4 linked regions of the Homo sapiens genome follow. The protein of the gene in region 2 purifies or fractionates together with the protein of the main gene of each other region. This does not show direct contact. Each region holds a gene or a part of one and is shown on either strand. Other genes may lie near its edges.

What was found. The genes of interacting proteins can lie anywhere in the genome.
Region 1: the proteins of MAP3K14 (region 2) and NAV1 purify together in Homo sapiens (affinity purification with mass spectrometry; 2 studies listed by BioGRID and IntAct, with this or other methods). This does not show direct contact.
Region 3: the proteins of MAP3K14 (region 2) and RRBP1 purify together in Homo sapiens (affinity purification with mass spectrometry; one large-scale study listed by BioGRID and IntAct). This does not show direct contact.
Region 4: the proteins of MAP3K14 (region 2) and YBX3 purify together in Homo sapiens (tandem affinity purification; one large-scale study listed by IntAct). This does not show direct contact.

The regions. Positions count from the first base shown.
Region 1 is NC_000001.11:201,808,127-201,811,626, reverse strand, and holds part of NAV1 (neuron navigator 1), read right to left. Parts: coding exon 3,478-3,500; intron 3,210-3,477; coding exon 3,017-3,209; exon of another isoform or gene 2,925-3,016; coding exon 2,756-2,924; intron 2,464-2,755; coding exon 2,366-2,463; intron 2,186-2,365; coding exon 2,090-2,185; intron 1,682-2,089; coding exon 1,522-1,681; intron 1,105-1,521; coding exon 869-1,104; intron 25-868; coding exon 1-24. UniProt on the Homo sapiens protein: May be involved in neuronal migration.
Region 2 is NC_000017.11:45,286,021-45,289,520, forward strand, and holds part of MAP3K14 (mitogen-activated protein kinase kinase kinase 14), read right to left. Parts: intron 3,286-3,500; coding exon 3,216-3,285; intron 1,345-3,215; coding exon 1,134-1,344; intron 1,026-1,133; coding exon 411-1,025; intron 1-410.
Region 3 is NC_000020.11:17,658,243-17,661,742, reverse strand, and holds part of RRBP1 (ribosome-binding protein 1), read left to right. Parts: intron 1-1,214; 5' UTR 1,215-1,235; coding exon 1,236-3,147; intron 3,148-3,500. UniProt on the Homo sapiens protein: Acts as a ribosome receptor and mediates interaction between the ribosome and the endoplasmic reticulum membrane.
Region 4 is NC_000012.12:10,702,824-10,706,323, reverse strand, and holds part of YBX3 (Y-box-binding protein 3), read left to right. Parts: intron 1-2,175; coding exon 2,176-2,273; intron 2,274-3,500. UniProt on the Homo sapiens protein: Binds to the GM-CSF promoter. Seems to act as a repressor. Also binds to full-length mRNA and to short RNA sequences containing the consensus site 5'-UCCAUCA-3'. May have a role in translation repression.

The DNA of each region.
Region 1 (3,500 bases), on a different chromosome or scaffold from region 2:
GTTGGAAAGATACAGTTGCAGATCCTGGAATAAAAGAAGGCTGTGGGTCAGCACTTGGGAATAAGCAGCTGGATCGGCCTTGGAAATCAGGATTTTGAAGAAGTCTTACTAGATCTAGATTCCCCTGGGGCCTTTAGTTCCTTGCAAATTTGATTACAGCAGATTACCACAGAGTGATAAGCAGTGGTTGCAAAGGCTCTAAAGCAACCCTCTTAAGCAGCAGCCCCTAAATTCCCCAAAGTTGGGGAACATATGCTATTTCCTAGATGGATTTTCACTGGTACCATGGACTACTACTAATGGGCATGCCTCCCCGAGCTGGGAAGAGCAAAGATCTGAACCAACTCCATTGTATTAGGGTACTCAAGAGACATCATCAGGTTTTGGCAGGGGAGGGTGTAATATGTACCATTTAATTCTGAGTGCTTCTTCCCAGATAGCCCAAGGTCAGAGAGTAATACTGAAAAGAAAAGTAGAAGGAAGAGAACAAAAGAGAAGGGATGGGATTGACAGGGTTGGCAGACAGTGGGGTAGAAATGAGGAGAATGCAGTTTCATCAATGACCAACTGAGGAGGAAGGTGCACAAAGCAAGGAAAAGTGTGGAGAGGAAAGCCTTTCTCCATAAAGGCAAGGGAAAGTGTGGAGAAACAAGTTAAAGGCAAGAGGCTGGAAAGAAATCGTGGGGAGGGAAAGGAGAAGACTGGAAAAGGGGATAGATAGAGAGGGAAGGAAATGAACACAGAAGAGAAGAAAGATGAAGGCAGAGGTGAGGAAAAGGGAACAATGAGGCAGGAAGGGGCCGAGGAAGGGTCTTAGGGAAGGCTGAGGCATGAACAAAGGCTGGCAGGGGTGTCGGGGGGCAGCCACCTTGCAAGACTGCTGGTGCATGTTGAAGGTGCTGACGATGCCCTCTGTGACCTCACGGCCAGAGCGCTCCACCAGGTACTCGGCCAAGCGATTGGTCAGGTAGGTCTTGCCCGTGCCGCTGGGGCCCGAGAGGACGAGGCGCCGGTGCTTCAGCAGGAGGCTTATGTAGTGCTGCATCATCGGCTTGGGGATCAGCGTCTCGAACACCAGGCTGTCGACGCATTTCTCCTTCAGACCTGAACCCCCACCCCAGAAAGCATGAGTATTGACCAGGGTCTTGAGGATAGCAAGGGATCCTAAAGGGCTTTTCTTTCTTTATCTAGGAGCCCCCTGAAGAAACTCAGAGCCACTTGCCCCATGGTTCCATAAGAGTCCCTTAACCCCTAGTTTTGAAAACTTAGATCTTCTTTTTAGGGACATGCTGTGAGCTGGGGGTGAGGAGTGAAGCAAGAAGCCAAGGCTTAGCAAAAGTGTCCCTGGGAGCCAAAGTTAGGACTGGGTCTTACTCATCTTTTTATATCTCACATTACTTAAGCATCTTCATATTATACCTTCTCAGTGAGTTCTTGGTGAATGAATGCATGATGGATTATTTGATGATCCTGTCCCTGCCTTCATGCCACACCACCTCACCCCAAGAGACAAAGACTGACCTTTGAGGGAGACTGATATGTTATTGACACCTCGACGGCAAGGAGGCATCTCGGGGGGCTCTGCATCCAACACTCGTTTCACGTGGCTGATGCTGTAGCCATGGATGGACTCAGTGCTTAGTCCCAGGGTAGAGGCTGGGTCCATTTTAGAAATATAGTCCTGACAGAAAAGACAGGCAGAAGAAGAAGAAAATATACAAACACAGGTGTAAAAGCCACAACAAAGAATGTCTATCAGAGGAAACAGAAATAGATGGAGAAAGTGCAGAGCATATGCTTTTCCTAGGTAGCATTTCTCCATAAAGCCTCAAAGGTCCCCAGGATCCCAGTGCCTGGACGGTTTAATATCCTGTGAGAAGCCATGCATGGTGGCACATGCTTGTAATCCCAGCTACTCAGGAGGCTGCGACAGGAGAATTACTTAAGCCCAAGAGTTCAAGGCTGCAGTGAGCTGTGATCACGCCACTGCCCTCCAGCCTGGGTGGCAAGAGTGAGACCCTGTCTCTAAAAAAGTATATATATTCCACGAGAGGATGAACAACCTTTTTGAGTACAGGTATCCCTTTACCTTGAACACTTGGAAAACAGCTTCATCCAGCATCTTCCAGTCAACTTTTCCACTGACCTTGCTACAGCCCAGGAAGAATTCCTGCTGCTTCAAGTCCTGTAAGGCCAAGGAAGGAAAAGCTCTTGAGCTTCACTGCAGATGACTCCATGAACCGGGGTCCTAAAGGCCTTAGGAGTTGAGTTCTTTGGTTTTGGAGGTACCCAGGGTCCAGATTTTCTTGGATAAATGTAACAGTATTTGTTCATTCCCACTGTGGCTCTCCCTGAAGTTCCTTACCCCTTTGATGATGTGCTGCGGGGGCATCCTCACCACCACCCGGAGGGTCACTTCCTCCTTTGGACCACAAGTACTGATGCCATCCATGGGTGACAGGTCTGTGGGGATTGAAAAGAACCAACTGGTTTTAGGAGTACCCGCAGCCTTTCCTAAACTTTCCCATCATTATCCTTTCCAAAATAACTCTGTTTGCCACAGAGAAGGAATGGAGGTCCCAAACTCAAAAGTAGTTAAGGTTGAAGGACCATTACAACTCAGTGTCTTAGGACACTGGCATCTGCTTGGCTTCGGCATTGTTACCGCCCTGACCAAAGCAAGTGGAATGGTGTAACAGTGAAATAAGCCCTTTTCTTCCCTTCACCCTTATAGATTCTTCTCCCACACAGGTACCTGTGTCTGCAAGACTGGGGCCGAAGGAATGGGTGAGTGCCAGGCCTAGGGAGCGGCGTGGGGAAGATAATGCAGATGATCCAGGGACCTGCCCTGGAGTGGAGCCTGATGAGGGGCCTGGGGCTACCTTCAGTCGGTCATTCTCTGCTTTCAGCAGGTCCACCTCCAACTGTGGCAAGAACAGACAGGGTAGGGTGGCAGACTGGACAGACAGCAAGCCTTGGTCTTCCCTTTCCTGCAGCTGTCCGCCCAGACACTGACCTGCATGTTGTGCATGGTCTCCCGAAGCTGATCCAGTTGGTGGGCAGAGTTGAGGGCCTCCAAGCGGATGTCTGTAAGCTTCATTTCCTTCTCCCATAGCTCAGAGCGCAGCTCCGATACCTCCTTCTTCTCTGGCTCCTCCTCCTCATTTGCATGGAACAGCCTAGTGTGGGGGGCTGGGTGAGCAGGGCCCCTGTAAGATAGCAAGAGTCAAGCCAGGCTACATGAAGAAGCACTAGAGTTACTAGAGAATATTGAGAGGCATGGTTGGTGGTCTTGGCTTCTCCTGCCCATTGATATTCAATCAGCATGAGAAGAAAGGTCCATCTGTTGGTCTCATATGCCCAGGGAGAGGTCAGTAATAAGTACTGCTTGTCTAAGGTCTAATGGCCTCCTGTCAACTCTAGCCCACAGCTTACACTGGTAACAGGCTGGGTGGCAGGGAGCCAAAGAGCACTTACTCGGTGACATCAGTGCCCACGGA
Region 2 (3,500 bases):
GATAAAATCATTTAAAGTTATAAAATTATTTGGGAAGTTAACAAGAGGAAAAAGGGAAGGAGGTGGGTGGTGAAAACAGGTCCCATCCTCATCTTCCGTCTCTGGGGGCCATGATAACATCTCCAGTGGCTCCTGGCTGATTCCCCTTGTCCTCAGCATGTGTACTATTAATGCAGTGCCCACATTCAGCAAGCAGGAGGTGACCAACCAGAAGAACTCAGAACAGAAGACGCTAAAAAGGCTGTGAGAAGTGAGATTGGCGGAATAAGAGATGATACTTTTCATCCACAATGAGCACTGTCCTACTGTTTGATTTGTCACCACAGGCAAGAGTGACTCTGATAAAGAGAGAAAAGCATCCCCCAGGTTGCTGGTAGAGGGACATATACAGGTGCCGGGGGATTAGTTACCTCAGTGAGCAGGACACCCTCGTTGTCCTCAGTTTTGGGGCTGGGCTCCCGGGATCTGGAGCCCCTTGCTGCCCAGGTCTTGGCCAGGCTGGTCAGGCTGTGGGCCTGGCCTGAGCTCACGCTGCCTTGCAGAGCATGCACTAGGTATTCCTCCACAGAAAACTTCTCATGGGCACCACGAGACAGGCAGCTGGGCTCCAGGTGTGGGCCAGGCAGGGGCTTTGGACTGTCTACACAGGCCAGTTTGCTCAGGTGTGGGTCAGGCAAGGGTTTCTGGCTGTCTACACAGGCCAGTTTGCCCAGGAAGGACTCCAGAGGGTGAGGTTTCCAGGGCTGGAGAGGGTGGAATGGGAAGGGATGAGGCAGTCTGCTATAGGGGAAGGGGTGCGTGGGCAGGGGCAGGGGGCCTCCGTCCTGGGGGTGGTGCAGTTTCCACACGTGGTTCAGACATTGCAAGGGGCTGATCAGTTTGTGGAGTTCTGATCGAGGCAGAGCCGGCCGTAGGCCCTCGCCAAGCTGCTTAAAACAGAGTTGCCCAAGGCCTGGTTCCTTCAGAGGCTTGGTGAACTGCGGGGTGTTTCTAACATATGGGGCGCCGAGTGGAGACTCATCCTCCTGCGGGGGGAAACACAGCTATCAGCACAGAGGGCCAGGGCCCAGGGACAGGCTCCAATTTCAAGGCCCCATGAACCTGGGGTCTGGGCAGTGGGTGGAGGGTCTCACCTGCACTGGGATGGTGCAGCTCTCCTGCTCAGGGGTCCTGGGGAGGGGTTTGGCCAAGGCCACTCCTGCATGAGCCAGGGACTTTGAGCTCTTCTTCTTCCGTTTCTTCCGGGCTTTGCTGCGACGCTTTCCCTTCCAACACACACGGGCCATTTTGCCCTCTGTAGCATGGGCCACATTGTTGGGGATCTGATCAAGACTCTCGGACTGGCTGTCACAAAAGGGACAGATTTGCATATTGAGCACGAGGAAGCAGGAAGATGGACTGGTCCAGACACTTGTATCTGGACTCCTGCAGATCCAAGGTCAAATCCCAGGTTGCCATTCCTTGTGTGAATGCGGCAAGGTTTCTAAATCCCAAGGAACCTGTTTTCTCACTTATCTCACTTATAAAATGGGTTTGGTATTTTCTGCCATACAGGGTGGAAATGAAGTTTCAATAATTTAGTTCATTTAAAAAGCCCAGCTCAGTGTCTGGCCCCAAGGCAAGCTGCCGAGAAGCTGTGCTTGTTACTATGGTGATGGGGTACAGACTCAGCACTTCTTGGGGAGAGTCAGGGGAGCAGACACGGTTCGCTCACTGCTCTCCAAGGTGAGCTGCCCCTGGAGAGTTCCTAGGAGGGGGCCACGCTCATGGCAGGCCTCTCAGCTCTGACTGAGCAGAGCTTGTTTCTGTTGCCTCCGGATGGAGGAACAGGTAAGGCTGGTCACCTCCATTCTCACAGTTCCTGGGGGTCCCTGGCTGCTGTTGAAGGTGAACAGCCTGGGCTGCTGCCTGGTACTGGGGAGCCTGCCCTTCTCTGCTGGCCTCGGGGCTCATCACTGCCATGGCTCTAACTGGACTGGGATCCCTGCCAAGTATTAAAGGACCCGGCAACAGATGGGTTGCTGCAGAACAGCTGTGGAGCAGATCATGGCCTCAGCCACCCTCCCTTGGCCTCATCTTCTGCCCCCATGGAGAAGGCAGACTCATGGCAGTCCTGGGGACCACTGGAGGCCTACAGGCTTCTCTTGGACAGCTGAAAGAAGTGTGTCTATCAGAGGCTCCTACCCTGGGCCAAAAGGCACCCAGGACAGCAGAAGGAATCCCACCAAACTGAGCATTTCTTGGTTCCAAGGCAGCCAGCTGCCCTCCCCACAATCTTATCACTAGCAGGTTCCAAACTCCAATGATACAAAACCTGCCTGGTGATAGGGGAAGGAGCTGTTTCTAGCTTGAACTCTTGTTTTTTTTTTTTTTTTTGAGACAGAATCTTACTCTGTCACCAGGCTGGAGTGCAGTGGCACAATCTCGGCTCACTGCAACCTTCGACTCCTGGATTCAAGCGATTCTCCTGCCTCAGCCTCCTGAGTAGCTGAGGTTACAGGCATGCGCTACCATGCCCAGGGAATTTTTGTATTTTTAGCAGAGACGGGGTTTCACCATGTTGGCCAGGATGGTCTCGATCTCCTGACCTCGTGATCCACCTGCCTCGGCCTCAGAAAGTGCTGGGATTATAGGTGAGAGCCATTGTGCCCAGCACTTGAACTCTTGTTTCAAAAAATCATCTGTGGGGGAATGCAGAGCCTGGGAACAGACTCAGCCCCACCCTGGCTTCCTTTCTACCGGGCCACCAAGTCTATCTGTCCCCTCCTTTTCTACCGCCCGCATCCCTACTCGGTGCATCTCCCAGGAGAAAAGGCACCAGCAGGTTTCTCCCATAGAGGACAGTGGAAGGCCCCCCCCACCAACCCGGCCTGCGCTCACGGTCACGCAAGAGTGGGAAGCAGCTTCTGTTCCCAGCACCCTCCCTGTTGATGGGAAACGAGGGGGTGCATTAAGGACTCTGAGGAGAATAAAAATAAAATGTCAAGTTGATGTGGCCCAGAGGCAGTCAGCCACAAGCTGTGAAAAGCCTTTGAAAAGCTTATTTGGCTGAGAGAGCGGCTCAGCCAGGAAAGCCTGGGTGAGTTCCAGGAGCTGAACCACAGGTGCTGAGGGAGGGAGCCCGGGGTCAGCAGGAGCGGCCCAGGCAAGTGCTGGGGACGAGGGCGCTGGGTCCAGTCCCCACCTTCCCACTCAGGCTTGTCTCCCCTGCTTACCTGTACTGTTTGGACCCAGCGATGAAAATGCGTTCTGAAAAGGTGGGGCTGAACTCTTGGCTATTCTCACCTAAAGCAAAAGGAGTTGGATTAGCAGAGAGGAGAAAAAATAGGAATTTAGCACTTAGGGGAGAGACATTTTACAGAGATCCCCTCTGGCGCCTCTCCTTCCCCTCCTTTCCAGACAACCCCTGTCTGGCAGTCACCTCCCCACCAATGCCTCCTTCCCGCACTGTCTCTCCCCAGCTTCTCAGCTTACTGGTCAAGAGCAGACCACGGCCTCAG
Region 3 (3,500 bases), on a different chromosome or scaffold from region 2:
GCTGGGGGAGGCCTGTCCACTTCCCCTCCTCTCCTCTTCCACCTCCTTTTACCTCCCCTTAACCACCCCTTCTTACCCTTGTGTTCTCTTTGCTCATTCCATCGATCTTCTTTAGAGAGACTCGGGACTGGCTTGAATGTATCCAAATAAATACACCTCCTGGAGTTCCTCAGTGAAGTCGAACTTAGCCCGGGCTGTGGCAGGAAGGTGTATGAACCTGGATGCCTCTGACCCATTGGACTTTGGTCCATAGGCAGTGAGAATGGTGTTGTTCATTCTTATGGTTTGGGGAGTGTTGTCTGACAGAGGGGCCTGCTGACACTGTCTCCTCACCCTCTGTGCAGCTTCTGGATGTGAAATTCCAAACCTGGCATCTTCTGGGCCTCCCAAGACTGATTCTTCCTGTTTCCCAACATGCAAATTGCAGGCTCCATAACTCCTCAGGAGCTATTGCTGGCAAAAGGCTATTTTCCCTCACTGAATTTTTGAACACGTTTCAGGATTGTAATGCAGAAGTTTTTATCTCTGATCCTGGGTAGCAGCATTTATTGGCACTGGGGAAGAGGGAAACAACAGAGTGGAGATGGCACACTGTGGGCCTGCTGGCTAAAATGCTTGTGGCTGAAAGCCTGCAGATGTGTTTGGTTTGGTTCGGTTCACATATTTTTTAAATCAGTCAATTTCACGTTGAGAGAAAAATTTTTTAAAAGTGTCTGGCCTAACATGAAAAATCAAAACATCTTCCAACTCAGCAATCACATTTCTAGGGCAATCGGCCATGACAGAGTGTCACTGTCTAATTTTAGGTGGGGGCGGGTGTTTTTACTACAGTCTCCACCACTCCCCATGGTCTCACACCTGGCCTGTGTTTGTGCTCCTGTGCATCTTTGACCTTGGGTGGGGAATATCTTGCATCAGGGTCATGGCTGCTGAGGCTCCTGGGCGTGTGTGCTCCAGAGATAGGCCTCCACTCTGCTCTGACTCTGCTGTTGCTTTGTATGGGGACTGCTCATGCCTTGGGTACGAATCGCTCACTCCTAAAGAGGAGCAGGTGAGAATGTGGGACATCAGAGAGTGCCTGGGTTTGTTTCTTCTCTGAATTTATTAGCCTGAAGAAAGAATTAGTGAAACCTGAAGTTTGGTGGTAGGGTGGGGATAGAAACTGTTGAAGGCCTTGATTTCTATAAATAGTAACCTCCATGTATGTTTGACAGGTGAAAGGAAAGCAAGCCAGGATGGATATTTACGACACTCAAACCTTGGGGGTTGTGGTCTTTGGAGGATTCATGGTTGTTTCTGCCATTGGCATCTTCCTGGTGTCGACTTTCTCCATGAAGGAAACGTCATATGAAGAAGCCCTAGCCAACCAGCGCAAGGAGATGGCGAAAACTCACCACCAGAAAGTCGAGAAGAAAAAGAAGGAGAAAACAGTGGAGAAGAAAGGAAAGACCAAGAAAAAGGAAGAGAAACCTAATGGGAAGATACCTGATCATGATCCAGCCCCCAATGTGACTGTCCTCCTTCGAGAACCAGTGCGGGCTCCTGCTGTGGCTGTGGCTCCAACCCCAGTGCAGCCCCCCATTATCGTTGCTCCTGTCGCCACAGTTCCAGCCATGCCCCAGGAGAAGCTGGCCTCCTCCCCCAAGGACAAAAAGAAGAAGGAGAAAAAAGTGGCAAAAGTGGAACCAGCTGTCAGCTCTGTAGTGAATTCCATCCAGGTTCTCACTTCGAAGGCTGCCATCTTGGAAACTGCTCCCAAGGAGGTGCCGATGGTGGTGGTGCCCCCAGTGGGTGCCAAGGGCAACACACCAGCCACTGGCACTACTCAGGGCAAAAAGGCGGAGGGGACTCAGAATCAAAGCAAAAAGGCTGAAGGAGCCCCAAACCAGGGCAGAAAGGCAGAGGGAACCCCAAACCAGGGCAAAAAGACAGAGGGAACCCCAAACCAAGGGAAAAAGGCAGAGGGAACCCCAAACCAAGGCAAAAAGGCAGAAGGAACCCCAAACCAAGGCAAAAAGGCGGAGGGGGCCCAGAACCAGGGTAAAAAGGTAGATACAACCCCAAACCAGGGGAAAAAGGTGGAGGGGGCCCCAACCCAGGGCAGAAAGGCCGAGGGGGCTCAGAACCAGGCCAAAAAGGTAGAAGGGGCCCAGAACCAGGGCAAAAAGGCAGAGGGGGCCCAGAATCAGGGCAAAAAGGGAGAGGGGGCCCAGAACCAGGGCAAGAAGGCCGAGGGGGCCCAGAATCAGGGCAAGAAGGCCGAGGGGGCCCAGAATCAGGGCAAGAAGGCCGAGGGGGCCCAGAATCAGGGCAAGAAGGCCGAGGGGGCCCAGAATCAGGGCAAGAAGGCTGAGGGGGCTCAGAACCAGGGCAAAAAGGCCGAGGGGGCTCAGAACCAGGGCAAAAAAGTAGAAGGGGCCCAGAACCAGGGCAAGAAGGCTGAGGGTGCCCAGAACCAGGGCAAAAAGGCCGAGGGGGCCCAGAATCAGGGCAAAAAGGCCGAGGGGGCCCAGAACCAGGGCAAGAAGGCCGAGGGGGCCCAGAACCAGGGCAAGAAGGCCGAGGGGGCCCAGAACCAGGGCAAGAAGGCCGAGGGGGCCCAGAACCAGGGCAAGAAGGCCGAGGGTGCTCAGAACCAGGGCAAAAAAGTAGAAGGGGCCCAGAACCAGGGCAAGAAGGCTGAGGGGGCCCAGAACCAGGGCAAGAAGGCCGAGGGGGCTCAGAACCAGGGCAAAAAGGCCGAGGGAGCCCAGAACCAGGGCCAAAAAGGAGAGGGAGCCCAGAATCAGGGTAAAAAGACAGAAGGGGCTCAGGGCAAAAAGGCAGAAAGGAGTCCCAACCAAGGCAAAAAAGGAGAGGGAGCTCCCATCCAGGGCAAAAAGGCAGATTCGGTTGCTAATCAGGGCACAAAGGTAGAGGGTATTACAAACCAGGGGAAAAAAGCAGAAGGGTCCCCCAGTGAAGGCAAAAAGGCAGAAGGGTCCCCCAACCAAGGCAAAAAGGCAGACGCAGCTGCCAATCAGGGTAAAAAGACAGAGTCAGCTTCTGTCCAGGGCAGAAATACAGATGTGGCCCAGAGCCCAGAGGCACCAAAGCAAGAGGCTCCTGCCAAGAAGAAGTCTGGTTCAAAGAAAAAAGGTGAGCCTGGTAAGTAACTGATTTCTTTATGAACTTAGAAGGAAAGGCTGTCTTTAAATGACTTATGGATTCTCTCGGGGAGTGCCACCTGTATCAGTCAGCTATTGTCATAATAAGGCTGCGTAACAAACATTCAAAAAAAAATTCAGTGGCCTTCAACAGCAGTCATTTATTGTTGCTCATGCTTCTGGAGGTTGGCAGATGTGAGCTTTCTCGGTTGGTGGCTCTGCCTCAATCTGGTTTTAACTGGGTTGGTGACTCTTTGCTACAGGTTGAGCTCAGGTCAGTTCCATGTGTGGTCCTTCTGGCGCCCTCCAGGGCAGAGGCCCTTCATAGTTACAACAGAGGCACAAAAGGGCATT
Region 4 (3,500 bases), on a different chromosome or scaffold from region 2:
TGGGGTAGTAGCTGGAAGAAGATAAGGGATCAGAGCAAGATTTTTGCTTGATTTGATTTGCTTTTTACAATGCAGAGTTACCCCTGGTCTCTCCCTTACCCGTTACCTCACCAACAACTTCTAAAGCCATTAAATGGGCAGATCAAGGTAGGCACGTGTGTTTGCCATAAACCCACATATATATATACACACATACATAGACACACATATATGTGTAACATTGTGTGTGTGTGTTCCATGGTTCTGTCTACTGAAAGGTCCTGAAAGCCGTGATATCTTAGTAACAGCATTGAGCATACCTGTCCCCCAATTTTTTGTTTTTAAATAACATTCTCAAACAAAAAGAATTCCCTTTGGAGAAATGGCTGATTTCAGAGCTGGGACAGAGAAAGTATAATATGAGCCTGGAACATCTTGTTGTGCCAGAAAGCGAAGAAGTACTCAAAGAATGTTGGAAACACATCAATAGGATATGAGCCAGCTTGAAGGGGTTCCCATTGGCCAGTAATGATAGTAACAGATTACAACTCATTGAAAAAAATAGAAAACCATGAGTCCATACAAATATAAATAAATAAACCAATATATTGAAAAATTTGATAACGAATAGTATATTTATGCACTTTGTAAGTACTTCCTCACAAAGTACTCATTAATTACAAAGAAGGAAAGAGTCAACTTACAGTGGAGGACTCTGGTGGCAGATACCACCTTAACCACTTATCAAAGTGAACATTATCAGTAATGGCACAAATTGAAACTATATGCCACCTGACAGGATGCAGTGAGGAGAATGCAGTGTCACTTTTGTGACATCCCCCTGGGGATGCAAAAACAATATCTAATCATTAGTGAACACCAATAACCCAAGTTGAGGGATATTTTACAAAATAACTGGTTTGTAATCTTTAAAGAAGTATCAGGGTCATGAAAACCAACGTGGTGGCTCATGCCTGTAATCCCAGCACTTTGGAAGTCTGAGGTGGGTAGATCACGAGGTCAAGAGATTGAGACCATCCTGGCCAACATGATGAAACCCCGTCTGTACTAAAAATACAAAACATTAGCTGGGAGTGGTGGCACATGCCTGTAGTCCCAGCTACTTGCGAGGCTGAGGCAGGAGAATCGCTTGAACCAGGGAGGCAGAGGTTGCAGTGAGCTGAGATCGCGCCACTGCACTCCAGCCTGGCGACAGAGTGAGACTCCATCTCAAATAAATAAATTAAAAAAAACTGCTCCAAACAAAAAGATATAACTTACTTTAGTGCATAATTCTAAACGGTGTTTTTGCTATAAAGGGCATCATTGGGATAAATGGTGAAACTTGAATGGGATCTGAGAATTACATTTAACTTTTCTGTAACTTTGTGCTTATTTCAAAATTTTAAAAAATTGAAAAGGATGGGTGCTATTTCACTGGGTATATATGCTTGGATGGAAATGATAGAAAAGGTGAAAACATAGTGAAGGGATAGCGTTAACATGCTGTGTCTAGTTGATGAGAATAGAGAGGCTGTTGGTTTCAGATATGAACTTGGACCACTTACCCAGGGTAATGGGAGAGAAGAAAATTCTAATGTAAATACAGGGAGCTGGGTAGATTTGCTAATGAGAACGTGGAAATTGTCTTCTGACTGTTTCTCTTTCTTGATGAAATAATGAAGGACAGTATTTGGCTCTTAGGGGGAGGAAGGGATGTTTTGAGAAAAGAAAAGAAAGTTGAGTTATGGCTGTATGGTCAAGAATTGCAGACATTGTTGGTGGGTTTTTTTGTTTTTTTAAGTTGTTCTTTCTTTCCCCTGGAAGTTGTACAATAAGTTAATTTTATTCCACTGGCTTAAAGTAAGTTTGTTGTAAAGAAAAATAAAAGAGTATTTTATTTAAAGAGATGAATGAAATGTATCCGATTTCAAAATGTTAAATTGATAGGCGAAAATAAAGTTAGGTGCTCTGGGACTAAGCAAATGAGTATTCTAGTCAGACTAGGTTTGTCTTCCTTTTCAGTCGTTCACGAAGATTTACTCATAAATAGTTTGTGTTGCAACTGAGAGTGCCTAATTTTGTAATGAAGCATTTTGTTTTTTACTTCTAAAAAAAATTCTGAACATAGCTGTATGCACTGTATCTTATCCCCTGTGCTGTGACACTCACTGTCAGCTCTCATTGCCTCTCCAGGCTGGTGAGATTGGAGAGATGAAGGATGGAGTCCCAGAGGGAGCACAACTTCAGGGACCGGTTCATCGAAATCCAACTTACCGCCCAAGGTACCGTAGGTATGTCGCATTTTCCACTAATGGCCAGTTAAAGGACTTGTGTGCACAATGGTAGAATGAGGACTGTGTGGTTCCGTTTTGTGGATTTATTATATATCTAGAAGATGTGAATGCTTTGACTACATGCCAGAGTTTTCAGGTGGTGGTGTGACATTTCCCACCTACTTAATACTAGAATTTTTAGTTATCTCTGCGCCAAAGCGTCATTTTGTATTCTGGAATTATAATAAGATGTAAATTAATACTTAATTTTTATCAAAATAAATCAGATAAATTATTGGTGGGCAATTCTGTGGTAATGCTGCAGATGGAGGAAGAATTGAGTGTCAGAGGATATTTGGGATAGTGACTGTTAATCACTGAGGCAGTCCAGTAGAGGGGTTAAATCAGGGTATGATCAAATCGCCTGAATTTATCTTCCTACTCTACAGTTCATTAGATGTATGTTCTTGGACTGCATTCCAGCCTGCGCAACAGAGTGAGACCCTGTCTGAAAACAAAGAGATATTCTATAGTTGGGGATTAAAGGTACTAATGCAGCTAAGATAATTAGTGTGGTACCTGATAAAGTAAAGGCCTCACTATGTATTAGATATTATTACCACCATTGAGGTTAATATTAGTGAACGCTGGGTTATTCTATTTGTGCTTTATTCCTTTGGAAGACTGAATTAGGCTAGACTCCTTCCATAAGATCCCTTTGAAGCATTTTATAATATAAGCCTGCCCATTCTTTTATCTTACCCTTTGTGGTAAGTGGAAAAGCTACAACTTCTTCCTGAATGATGTTTATGCTACCTTGAAATTTGTCAGTATGGCTTTATTGAAGGATAAAAAGTATATTATATTGGGAAAGGATTCCACCAATATAATTGTAAAAGGATCGTATCCTTTTTCTTCACAAGGTTCCCTCCAGCTTTAGGCATAATCACTAATGATTAAGTACTAGGGACTTTGAAAATAAAAGAGACGGCATAGAAATGTCTTACTGGAACAAAAAGGATTCAGTAGCGTGTGAGGCTCAGCTTTGTCAGTCCCTGGATATGTGATCTTGGAAAGTCATATTTGACCTTTTTTAACCTATAAAAGCAGCACTTTTATATAGCTCAGCCGTATACTTTATCATGTAAACCTCTTGGTTTTCTTGTTATAAATCTCATCCACAGAATTACCATTCAAATTAAATATTTAATTTTAAAACCGACTAGCACAGGCTCTGGCACATAA